Regions from separate parts of the Homo sapiens genome. Here regions 1 and 3 are each reported to be linked to region 2. Evidence: microRNA targets listed by miRTarBase, many of them from high-throughput screens and not tested one by one. Region 2 holds a microRNA gene; each other region holds the end of a gene's coding sequence.

Evidence for each region. Region 2 holds the annotated microRNA hsa-miR-124-3p (UAAGGCACGCGGUGAAUGCCAA, at 2,771-2,792, opposite strand). A microRNA usually pairs through its seed, bases 2 to 8, with sites in the 3' UTR of a target mRNA and lowers its output. Matches are read on the target gene's strand: a 7mer-m8 pairs with bases 2 to 8, a 7mer-A1 pairs with bases 2 to 7 and ends in A, and an 8mer does both.
Region 1: the mRNA of MORC4 is a reported target of hsa-miR-124-3p. Seed matches in the 3' UTR shown: 7mer-A1 at 3,243-3,249.
Region 3: the mRNA of CEBPE is a reported target of hsa-miR-124-3p. The part of its 3' UTR that is shown has no 7-base or 8-base seed match.

Annotation. Positions count from the first base shown.
Region 1 is chrX:106,938,110-106,942,172 of GRCh38, forward strand. MORC4 (MORC family CW-type zinc finger 4) reads right to left here. Exons shown (of 17, transcript NM_024657.5): 16 at 3,829-4,063; 17 at 2,629-3,523. The coding sequence ends at 3,370. Among named protein-coding and RNA genes, the nearest start is that of CLDN2, 20 kb to the left of the region's middle.
Region 2 is chr8:64,377,935-64,382,001 of GRCh38, reverse strand. MIR124-2 (microRNA 124-2) reads right to left here and starts at 2,853; the gene lies at 2,745-2,853. MIR124-2HG (MIR124-2 host gene) reads right to left here. Exons shown (of 3, transcript NR_109792.1): 2 at 3,513-3,943; 3 at 1-399.
Region 3 is chr14:23,113,856-23,117,918 of GRCh38, reverse strand. CEBPE (CCAAT enhancer binding protein epsilon) reads left to right here. Exons shown (of 2, transcript NM_001805.4): 2 at 97-613. The coding sequence ends at 432. Among named protein-coding and RNA genes, the nearest start is that of CEBPE, 3.4 kb to the left of the region's middle. RefSeq lists enhancers at 1,954-3,153, 3,319-4,037.

The DNA of each region.
Region 1 (4,063 bases), not on the chromosome of region 2:
GAGCTCGACATGTGTCCATAGGAAGACTACAGTGAGCCAGGGGGAAAGTGGTATATGAAGAGGGGTTGCAAGAGACAAAGTATAAGTAGGCAGGGGCCTTGCAGGATACTGTAAGCAGTTTGGATTTTATTCTAAGTGTCAATGAGAAGTCATTTAAGGGCTTCAGGCAGGGGGGTCACATGATCTATTACTTTAAAAAAAAAATCACTGTCTATAGACAACTGTAGGAACAAGAGTAGAAGCAAGGACTCCAGCTAGGAGTTATAATAACCCATGGGAGATCATGGCAGTTTGGACTAAGGTAGCTGTAGTAAAAGTGAGGAGAGTCAAGACACACTTTGGAAGTAGAACTGACAGACTTGTTGACAGACTGGATGTAGGGAGTGAGAGAAGAGGAAAATTAGGGATAACTTCCAGGTTTCTAGCTTAAACAACTGGATGGGTGGAGGTGCCATTATCTAAGATGAGGAAAACTGGGAGAAAGGGAACAGCCCCAGGGTGTATCACTGCTTATTTTTAATGAGGCATGTTAAGTGTACATGTCAAGTAGGCAGCTGAATATTTGAATCTAGAGCTTTCTAATAGGGAAGACAGGACAAGGATGTTTGTGATAAAAGCCTTGAAAACTTAAATGTTCACAGAGAAATTTTTTGTCTAGCTGGGTTAATCAGAGAAGTTTGCAGGAAAAAGTTGGCATTTGAGCCAAAGGAAAGATGATGAGGGAAAGCATTGCAGCTAAAGGGAATGAAATTGCAAAGATGGAGATGGGAGAAATCTTAAAAGCATGTTCAGAAACTGGAAAATTGTTCAGTTTAGATGGAATGTGGCTTGTATCCGGAATGTTTCAAGATGACTCTAGAAAGGATGACTGAAGCCAGATCACAAAGGGCTTTGAGCACCATCCTAGGGAATTTGTATTGTACTCGGTGGGCAATTGGGAACACTAGCAAGTCTTTAAGCAGAGGCATGACCTGACGAAGTTGTTAAAAAACAAAATTTGGTGACACTGAGTAGGGCGGATCGAGGAGGGAGAACAGGAGGCAAGGGAGGCCATCTAAGAATTTATTTAGATAATCAAGGCATGAGGTAACAAGTTATTTAGGTAATAACCTAAATGCTTATCATGGCAATAGGAAGTTAAAGGGCAAATGTGGGAGACATTTCAAAGGGGAATTATGATTATGTTAACCTAACAGGAGAGCCAGGAGGAGGCACCTGCTTTTTTCTTCTCAATGTCTTTTGCCTCCACACTAGATCGTAACCTCTGGTAAGGCTGGGAGATATTTTTCAATCTTTCCACAGTGGGATTTAACACTATCAAGGAGATCTCATGCTGGTATGGCTTCTTAGTAAATAGGAAACAAAGAGGTGGCTCTGGTATTGAAGTGAATGGACTCACACAGACAGTGGTGCTGGAAAAAGCAGTGTGGGGTCAGGTCCACAAACCAGGGAATGGGCTGAGAGTAAGCACTAGGAAAGATGAGTTCAAATTTCCTACCTTCTTCCCTTTAAAGCCTCATTGCCTGCCCTCCTTCCTACTCAGTCCCCTCATTCACCCAACAAACACTCACACAGGCAGAACCTTCAATGCTCTGAATTTTTCCTTCCAGCAGACTCCCATCCATCTGTGTGAAATCTCACCCACTCACAGCCCCCATCTGATGAATAAGTCTCACTGAGAGAATGTCGGAATGTGCTACTCTTCCCTCGGTACTATTTACATTTAGACAACTGCGGCCTTGACTATCATAATCCAAATGTCTAACATGAAAATTAATCATATGGCAAGCTAGAGCTGGGGTGAGGTGGAAGGTAAGGGGGCAGGGGGTATCTTTAAGTACTCATTCTAATGATGAAGCCTGGATTTGGCCTCCCCTCATTCCCTGCAGTCTCACTTGGGCTATGTACTATGAGCCCCCTTTCGAAGGAGTTAAAATTAATTTGGAAAAGTGTTCTGAAGTAACTCTGTGGAGGAGAAACAGAATGAATATCCAAGACATTTCCTCTGGACTAGCTAATCCTTTTGCCACTGCTTGATCTCACCTTCCTTTGATTGTTTCTCCTCTACTTCCTACTTTTTACTGTTGGTATATTTTTATGTGTTCATTATTCAATGTCTTTTGAAAAGTACCCTGAACTCTTTGGAGAGTATGTGCTATGTAAACACAATAAAGAAATGAATACAATGTCTCCTTTTACAAGAGAATAAGTTTTACTATTTCTGATAGTACGAAGTTTACCCCTCACTCAGCACTAGCCTGAAGAGTAAGTAGGTATATTCTGAGGGACATCAGATTCCACTCTAAAGTACTTCCCTAACTACCTGAAATCCCATTAATTTGATGACAAATATATTTTTTAATTTGAGCCTTATAGGTTTTTCAAGAATCCCTTATTAAAATGCGAATACCAAAGCAGGCGAACAGATCATGATATAACCTTAGTCCCCTTTATATTAACCCACCACTTCTATCGAACACATTTTTCACATTCCAAATTTTTCCATGCCTTTGTTTATGCTTTTCTTCTTCCAGAGGTAATGCTAAATTTAATATAAATTAGAAATATAACATTACCTTATATTTTCACATAATCTCTCATTTGATATTCAAATCCAAGCCTACTTGATCTTTTTAAAAACAATTTATTTTTTTCCAATGTAAGAATAACAAGTTTAATATTGAAAATCTGAAAAAGGCAGGAAGATAGGAAGAAGAAAAATATCAACCATAGTCCTACCACCTAAAGAACACTCACTGACAGTGTGGCCATGCTCATTCTTTAAGCCTTAATTTAGGTCCCATTTCTGGTGTGGTGCCTTCCTTGAACTTCCTCCCCCAGATCTTCCATGTCATATCTGTACCACTCAGTTGTACATATCATACACTTTTGTGTATAATGTGATGTATGTCTTATGTTTCCAACGAGATTGTTACATCTTCGAAGGCTGCAAACATGAGTTGTACTTGTTAGCTTACCCCAAAATAATACCTGGTATACCGGACCCAATATCTGCTGATTGATCTAACCTAAATGAATACAAACCATTTCAGAAAAAGATATACAATAGACCACATATCCAGGTCATGAAAATTAAAGCTTTCAGGTCACCTAGCTTAGTGACTATTGCTTTTCTGACCCTAGACTCTTGAAAGCCTATTTAAACTGGCCTCTTTCTCCACACCAAAACTGATAAAAAGGAGACTGATTATGAGCCAGGATTTACACAGAGATTCTCTATATAAGGCATAAAGGTGAGGGTGAGAGAGAGAGAGAGAGAGAGAGAGAGAGAGAGAGAGAGACGTGAGGGAGGGAGAGAAAAGAGAACAGACAGAAGATAAGAGAAGAGAAGGGTATACAGTCTGGTGCTCAATCCAGTATGTGATTTGCCTCCAGCACCGTGTACAGGATCCCATCCACTTGTTCTGAGTCATACCCGATCTCACGAAGCTCCAAGTGAGGGAGGACAGAAGTAAGGAGATAGCTGACGTGGATACGTAGCCGCGTAAGCTTTGCCAAAGCCCTGTATGAAGGAGTGAGGGGGCAGGAGAAGAGATGACATGAAGTCATTAACCAACAGAATAAAATGAAGCCCCTTCAAAATGGAACCACATTTCTCAACAGTTATGTTTTCATTAGCTAGAAAGAAGAAAGCACAACGCCACCAAGCACAGGGAGACTGGCTGCAGCTTTCTAAGAAGTAATTACTCAATTCTTGGTGGCCTGTGAATTAAGGCTTCCTCCTTTGTCTACGGCCAGTAAGTGGGGGTCCTAAGGGATGCTTCCCATTAGCACTCACAAGCTGATAACTAAACCCTAGTAATTAACCTTTCTAGGTCATCTCCCTCTGGGGTCCGGTAGGAGACCTGAGCCTTCTGCAGCATTTCCAGGTGTGTCTCTGTTTCCTTCAGTTTCTCTTTTAACTCTTGCTTTTCCTCTTTGGTTCTTTCCAGCTCAGCTTTCAGAATCTGGAATTCAGCTTGGCGATAACCCATGTGTTTCTTGCTCCAGTACAAGCCTTCCGCCTCCTGGGTACTGTAGATCACCAATTCATGTTGGACTT
Region 2 (4,067 bases):
TTTGTAATGGGCATCAAACTGGATGATTATTTTCCAAAGAAATAGGAAGTACATAGTCTTAAAAATCTAGAAACATCACGGATCAATAGCCACTCGATTTCATCTAGGCAACCGAATTACTAAATTGAGTGTTTCCCTTTTTAAGCAGTATTTTAACCTCTCTCATATCACGTATTTCATTTCTATTTAGAAAGCAATTTTAAACTGATCAAGCTTTCTGAAGGACAAGTTTAGATGATCCTAAACAGGTAGGATTAGGCTGAGGGGATTAGGTTTGCTCCTCTGAGGTAGTATGAATTCTAAAGGAATCAGGCAGGACGATTTTGCAGCCCTGGACCATAGCTGCTTTGTGGATTACGCAAGATGTGGATGCAGGAGATCAGCGCAATTGGATGAATACTGGAAGGAAAAAGCAAGGCCGCCATGATAACGTGTAATGCTTTAAATTCATTTCTGCTTCCAACGACTGCTTTTAATTGGCACAAGAGGAATATTCCCAATCCTTAAATTTTGTAATTCGAGCAGCCCCTATTTTCCAGTGTGCTTTACCCACCCACTCCGAAATTGGATAAAATTAAATATAAACCAAAGTAATCGATGAATGTGAAAGACCCGACTTGCAGAGTTCTAAAATTCGAGGACAGATAAAATCCGCCCTGAGGCAGGGGGTGAGAAGGCAGCTCTCTGAGGATATTGCACCTGGCCGCTTTATTTCATGAATTTTATGATACATCTACATCCCGTGTAAAAAAAATAACTTAATGAACACATGTCTTTTAGGTCATTGTCAATGCATGGCCCATTGTTATACCTGGATCAAAATCGGTGTTGCTGTCTCTATTGTCCAACCTGAATTATTTTGTCTGTTACTAATTTTAACACCCTTTATGTTTGTGAATTTATAGACAAACTCAAGCAAATGCATAGAAATTTCTTTTGAGAAATAGCCAGCCAGGGTGGCTACGAATTGGTTGATTTTCCGTCTCTCTCTCTCTCTCTCTCCCTTGCCATTTTGATTCATTACTTAGGGAATTTAAATTTGTATTGTTTACATTTAATACTTTCAACATCTAAGAACGATGAAATATGCTAAGAAATTTAGATTTTTGAATATATCAATACTGACTCATCCAACCTTCGATTTCTAAGGCGAATTTTCACTGCATAAGATTTAGTAAACCGCCCTGCCTCTTTCCGTCGCGTGAGCTATGAGGATGTGGCTGAGGTCGGTTTTTCCGCAGTGCGGGTTTCAGGCCTCCTGGCCCTCCAGTGCCTCCCGCCGGCTGGGATGCGCCGAGCAGGCTCCTGCGCAGCAGAGCGGTCTGCAGAGCTCAGCCCTCTGTACCCGTCTACTAAGGCTGCCGGGCTGCAAGGCCTGGCCGAAGGTGGCAAGCTGCATGGGCTCCTGCCCTGTTTCACCTGGTGGGTCCCCGACCCACCCCTTCCTAGTTAAGCCTCGAGGCCCACACTTGAGTCCATTGCACGTCCCTTTGGTGACCAAGTAAGCACTAAAATCCGCGGCTGAGGACCTTATGTTTCTGTTTTAAGGAAGATGATTTAAGAAAGAAAAGGATAATAATAAAGCCTTCATTCTCCTCAATTTCCTTCTTGCAATCCTGCGATTTAGGTTTCAGCCTAAATAAAGTGGAAATGGTTTCCCCATACACTTACAATGTATGTATGTGTGCATTCCTACGTGAAGACCAAAAAGTGTCAGGCAAGGGTAGCAACCAGCTTGAGGGAACGATTTCAGTAAAATATTGTTTTGCTGTATGTGACCTTTTTCTCTTTTTAAATGTTATTTTTCAAATTACCTAATATCCTACTCTTCTTTTGAGTAGGGACGGGACGGTCCTATTGCTTTTCCAGTTTGATTACGGAGAGAGAAAAGGGCCACGGTCAGCACCGCGGACAGCGCCAGGCAGGGAGGGCGCGGCTACTTTGGTGCATCCTCTTAGCTCCTCTCCTTTGTTCCCAACCCCTGCAGGCCAAGGCAGAACAAAGACATCAAGGCTCGCTTTTTCGGCCTGGGTTTTTCTTTGGCTCCAAAGTCGTGGTGCGGAACTGCTACCTCAACATAGTCCACCTCACTGGCTTCCAAACAAATTAATTTACCGAGTCCTTCTAAAGTTTCTGACCTGGTCCTTTCACCTTATCCCACTCCTTTGACCGATTTGGACATTGCGACAATGCCAAAACAAGAGAGTTATCTTGGCGTCTTAAAGCCAGGCATGAACGCCTCGAGATTGGGAAGAAAAAGGGAGAAGTCAAGGGGAAATGCGGGCGGCAAGTGTTCTTCAGATCTTTCCAAAGTTTGGACGTTTCATTTGCTGTTTCTTGCGCAGTGTGGTCAGGACGCTATTTAATGTTACACCTCTCTCTGCTGTTTTGTTTTCCCAGCTTGGCCCAGGACTGCAGACAATCACACTACCTGTTCTTGAAAGAACTAGTGCTTTCTAAATGATTTAACTCTCTGGAATATTTGCACAGGCGGGAACTACTGCTCTCCAGACAGCTGTCAATGAAGCTTCCCTAAAATTCTCCTCGGAGATTTGCCTGCGGATTTCCGCGGCTGTAATGGAAAAGTAGGAGCCTTTCCCTTTCGAACACTAGGTTGCTTCCAGAATCAGTCCTGGGTGGGGGTGGGGGGCATTTATGCGGCAAGAGATGGGTTCCTTTTACTACCCCCTAAATTCCCTGCAATTGCTTTTTCCCCTTTCTGACCCTGAGATGCTTTGGTGTCCTTCAAGTGCAGCCGTAGGCTCCGCTCTTGGCATTCACCGCGTGCCTTAATTGTATGACATTAAATCAAGGTCCGCTGTGAACACGGAGAGCAGAGCCTCTAATCTTGATCCGGAAAGTATAAGACCCACTGCGATTACCACTCTTCTCTCCCTGCCCATCCCCCTCTCTCCGCTCTGAGTCTCTACCCCTAGAGTCATAACTCATAAGCCCAGCTCCTGTCTCTGCTCATCTCTGACACATCTGCCAGAGCCGCTGTTAATTAGTCTGTTCCGTGGAAGTGTAGACGGTGCGTGTGCCTGCGTATACATATGCATATATCTCCATGCCATTTACAGCACACGCCTAAAAACATACATAAGCCTATAAATCTAGTTTTCAAATGACGGCGTGGATCCAAGTTAATTACCCCTCTGGTACAGATCTAATTTTGTAATCGTGTTATTTTACTGAATGCAATTAACCCAGTTGGTTCGCCCTGAATCCTTTCTAAGGCACTTGTAAGGAATGGCAGGTTTTTAAGGACCACGCTATTGCATGTTCTCCGTCATAACCATTGCCAATCATTTTCTGCTGTCAGGGATGAAATCTAGCATATAAAAGAGAAAACCATGCGTGTGTGCCTGTAAGATAAACACACAGATATGCCTGGGCTCTGTGTCCTTTGATAACGTTACCGCGGGTTTGGTTGGGAGATTTTGGGAAAAGAGAGTCCAAGGGCGGGCTGGGTCATCTTTCTTTGTAATGCGGAAAAATTAACTCATCCGCACCTGCCTAGTCCCGAGAGAGCTGGGCGGCCCATCTGGTCTGGCTACAAGTTTGCTGCGGAGAGAAAAGCCTGCTCACTAAAGCTTCCCCACTGCCCAGGAGCGCGGACCTCGGGTCTGGGCCCGGAAGAGGGATTAGGCTCAGGGCAGCGCAGCCGACTCGCACTCCTCAGCCAGTGGCCACAGTCTGGGGCTGGAAGCGCCTGGGCCGGGCGGAGGGAGGGCAAGCAGGAGAGAGAAAAGGGTGAGGGAAGTTGACCTCTACGGGCGGAGCCCTCTGCGCAGCGGGCAGGAGGCAGCGGGCGCGACGGCTCTTTTCACGGCGTCCCCTACGGCGTGGTCGACCCGAGGGAAAGGCCCGCTCCCGCTCCAGAGTCCGAGGAAAGGAGAGAGAGCTGAGAGCTGGTCTTGCGCAGAGACCCCAGAATGCGCCCCTGAAAAACAGAATCAAAGCGCAGTGTTAGGGAGGCGGGAGAGAGGAGGGGGAGGGTGGGGAGAGGGACACGAGGCGGGAGGGAGCATGCGAGGGATACAAGGTGACAAGAGGACAGGACCCCA
Region 3 (4,063 bases), not on the chromosome of region 2:
ATCAAGTGTGCCCTGGCTGCCGAGATTCCCGCCCCGCCTCCGCTCTGCCTCCTGGCCAGCCCTCACCTCTCCGTCTCTCCGTGCCTTCCCCTCCAGGCCCCTTTGGCCACTGCCGCACCCCCCTGCAGTCCCCTCCTGAAGGCGCCCTCCCCGGCTGGCCCCTTACACAAGGGCAAGAAGGCAGTGAACAAAGATAGCCTTGAGTACCGGCTGAGGCGGGAGCGCAACAACATCGCCGTGCGCAAGAGCCGAGACAAGGCCAAGAGGCGCATTCTGGAGACGCAGCAGAAGGTGCTGGAGTACATGGCAGAGAACGAGCGCCTCCGCAGCCGCGTGGAGCAGCTCACCCAGGAGCTAGACACCCTCCGCAACCTCTTCCGCCAGATTCCTGAGGCGGCCAACCTCATCAAGGGCGTGGGGGGTTGCAGCTGAGGCTGGCTGGTGGATTGTGGGCACCAGGCTCCCTGGCACGGCCTAACTCTGCGGACCCCCATCCTGCTGGGGGCCTAGAACCCTGAGACATAGACCATGGATAAATGGCAACCGGGGTGGCAAAGAGGGCAGGACCCAGCATAATGATTATATGGCTGAATAAAGTTGCACTGTGACTGGGTGTTGGGACTGTTGGCTGTGTGTGTGTGTGTGTGTGTGTGTGTGTGTGTGTGTGTGTCATGGAGGACCCTGGGGACAGAGGATGCATGTGGCTAGGTCTGCACCTCTTGTTTCCATGACCAAGTGGACATGTGGAAACACAGACATGCTGTCCACAGCCCACCCCCAATATACCACACAGCCAGGCCGTGTATCTGTCACTCTGCTCTTCTCTCCCTGACATCCCCCATCACCCCCTTCTGTGAGCTGAAGGCACATCCCCGCCCCCCACAGGACCTGGAGCACCTTTGTATGCTCTGCTAACAAAGATCTTCAGCTTGTAGGGAGATCCCGGCACCACACAGTCCTTCATGCCCAGGCCTGCTGATCCCAGGCCCACTCTCTCTCACCTTGAGGTATAGGTCTGGGAGCTCCTGCCCCAGGTGACCATGGGAAAATTCCTGATGGCTCTGCCATATTTATGGTCCCTTGATCCAGCCCGCCATCTCTTCTCTCCATTTCCAAAGCCTCAGTCTACCAGATGGACACCCTCCCCACGCTGCTCCCACCCATTCATTTCCATCCTTTGTCCCTCATCCCTGAGGCTCCAGTTCCCTAAAGCTTGAGAATTGAGTGCATGGGACAGGAATCGGTTGGGAAAGACCTGGAGACCGGATTTGTGTATGAGAACACTGGTAGTGAGAAGGAGGATGACAATCTGCCCGTGCCAGGGAAACCCATCATTCGAAACAGCATTTTCTTTTGCATTGGACTACAGCCTAAGAGACAGAATGGTACAATAATTAAGAGCCTCAGTTTGAATCTTACACTGCTACTTACTAGCTGTGAGCCTTGAGCCATTATGTCTTTCTGTGCCTCAGTTTCCTCATCTGCAAAATGGTTGCAATATTTGTCCCCACTCCGTAGTGTTGTTATATTCATAGAAAAAGAAAACTTTGCATGTAATAAGCATATTTATTATGATTCCTCCATTTTGCTGGAACTGAAAGGACCTCAGAGATCTCATCTAAACTCATTTTGCAGGTAAGAAAACAGGCTGCAAAGAGGGGAAGGGACTTACCTGGAGTCACACGATTGTTTAGAGGTAGAACCAAAATTGGCTCTGTAAAATCGCAGATCTCAAGATGTGCTGGGAGAGACCTCAAGAGATCATCTGGTGGGCTCTGCCCTCAGACCAGCAAGGTAGGGTGAGCCACATTTTACAGATAAAGCAGTTGAGGGCCAGAGGGGTAAGAGGCTTCTCCTGACACTCACTGAGTCCCTTTGCTGCCTCAGTACGTGGTACCTGTCTCTCTACTCCACGCTACACTCTTCTCACAGATCCTCAGTACGAGTGTCACATGAATCACATTCAATAAAGAACAGTGCCCAACAGTGTCAGGGACCCAGGGACAGATTACGGGCTTCTTAAAGTCTCTCCTAAGCCAATGCTGTGAAAGGCTGAGTCAGACATCAAGGAATAATTTTCTGAGAAGGTGAGAGACTGGTGTCTGGATCATCCCAGATCTCTCTCCCTTCTTCAAATCTCCAGCGGTAGAGCCCTCCCACACCTCGGGCATCCGTGTGCGGCATGTCTACCTTGCCCAGGACTCAGTCCTTTTCCTGCCTTTGCCTCTGTGTCTCTCGGGCACCTCTGTGTCCTGGAGGCCCGTGCCCCAGGTCTGGTTTGGAGGGAGAGATCTGAACCTTCAGTGGAGGGACCGACTGGAGCTTCCTGAGTTCAGAAGGAGGGGAGGTACCAGTCTCTGTGGGCACCTGGGAGAATCCTCACACCTTCCTTTCAGCCCAGGGGGATAGGTTGCATAAGGGGGGTTTGTACAGAACATGGTAAATGACTCAACCTCCGGATTTCCTCCTCTCAGCTCAAGACCACTGTCCCTTGACTTACTTTCAAGGTTCTGGGTGATGGGACCTGGGTTGCTTCAGCATGAAGCCCAGGCTTTGTTCCCACAGCTCTGAATTGCTTCTCCTCTCAGGCCCCCGCTCACCCAGTCAGGTCCTCAGGGCCGGTGCCTAGTGGAGCCTTCCTGACTGGCACCCAGTCTGGGGGAGTCACATCCCCGTCTCCCCACTGTGATCCCAGCGTGACGTGCAGCAGCTGAACACATCCCAATCCTCTGCATCAGATCATATTCCAGGGGTGTGAGTCAGAGCCAGAGGGCACACTTCCTGAAAGAGGCTTTCAATCTGACCTCAATTGGTTTTGGCCAACGTAACTTATTCAACAAGTATTTGTTGAGTATCTTTTCTAGGAATGAGACAAGTTCTCAGCAGAAGGAGTAGGAAGAAAAAGTCAATAAACAAGTGTGCTGAATGTCTTCCTTTGCCCCTCCAGAACCCTCTCCACCCTTCATCACCCTACACAGTCCCCAGGTGGATGCCTCCCTACATCAACCAGCCTCTCATGGGGTGGGGGTGAGACTGGCAGGAGGAGAGTGGTGGGAGCCCCCTGCTGACCGGCGCTCTCCACAGTCCCTCCCAAAGGATTCCTGGCCCTCAGGCGCCCCCCGTGCTGGGCTAGCCCAGGGGACTTCACCACTCCAGGAACTTTCCCCAGATACTGTTGGTTCACATCTTCATAAAGCACCTTAATTAACTTCTCCTGCTTACTCCATTTGAATAGCCCATTGGGGAAACCACATAAACCAACAGGTAGGGAGGCTATTTTAGCTGGGGTGGCCGAGAAAGGTATCTCTGAGGAAGTGACATTTTAGTTGACACTTCAAAAATTTTGAGAAGGAGGCAGGTATGTCTTTGAGTGTAAGGGTGAACAGAGGGAAGGGTAAATGCAAAAGCCCTAAGGTGACCGAGAGAAAGGAAGCCAGGAGTAGATGCTGAATGAAAGAAGGAAGGAGAGGATAAGTAAGAAAAAGATGCACCTTCCCTCCAGAATGGGGCTGCAGGGGTTGCAAATGACTATTTTCATTCCCTCTGTCAAGGAGGATGGTGCCTAAGAAGCCGGGGCAGGTGGAGAGCAGGGTTCTCTCTGCCCCTGGATTCAGCTTCCCTGCCCCTTGGTCCTCCTGGCACCTTTACCACAGTAAGGTTGTCCCCACTGGGGAAGGAGATGACAGAAAGGAGCCCAGGGAAGGGCAGTTAGCCAAACCCTGCCTGGGGAAAGGCACCAGGACCGGGGACTCGATAACGTTTGAAAACCAGCAAATCAAGGTCCAAACAGCACACGCATGCAGTCCTATTGCTTCAGCGCCCACAGCTCAGGCCCACTTTTCTTTCTGGAGCAGAACTGGGGAGCAGAATGAGACTCCTGAGCTGAGAGACAGGATCTTAGGCCACAGGGAAGCTGCAGAGGAGAAGACAGACTGTGGGGAGACACTGCAGAGGGAGGAAGCTGCCCAAGGTGAGTCTGCCAAGGTCAGTCAGCGGAGGCAGTGGCTTGTGAAAGCTGCCCCCAACCCCCCTGCTCGGTGCACACCTCCCCACCCCTCTACAC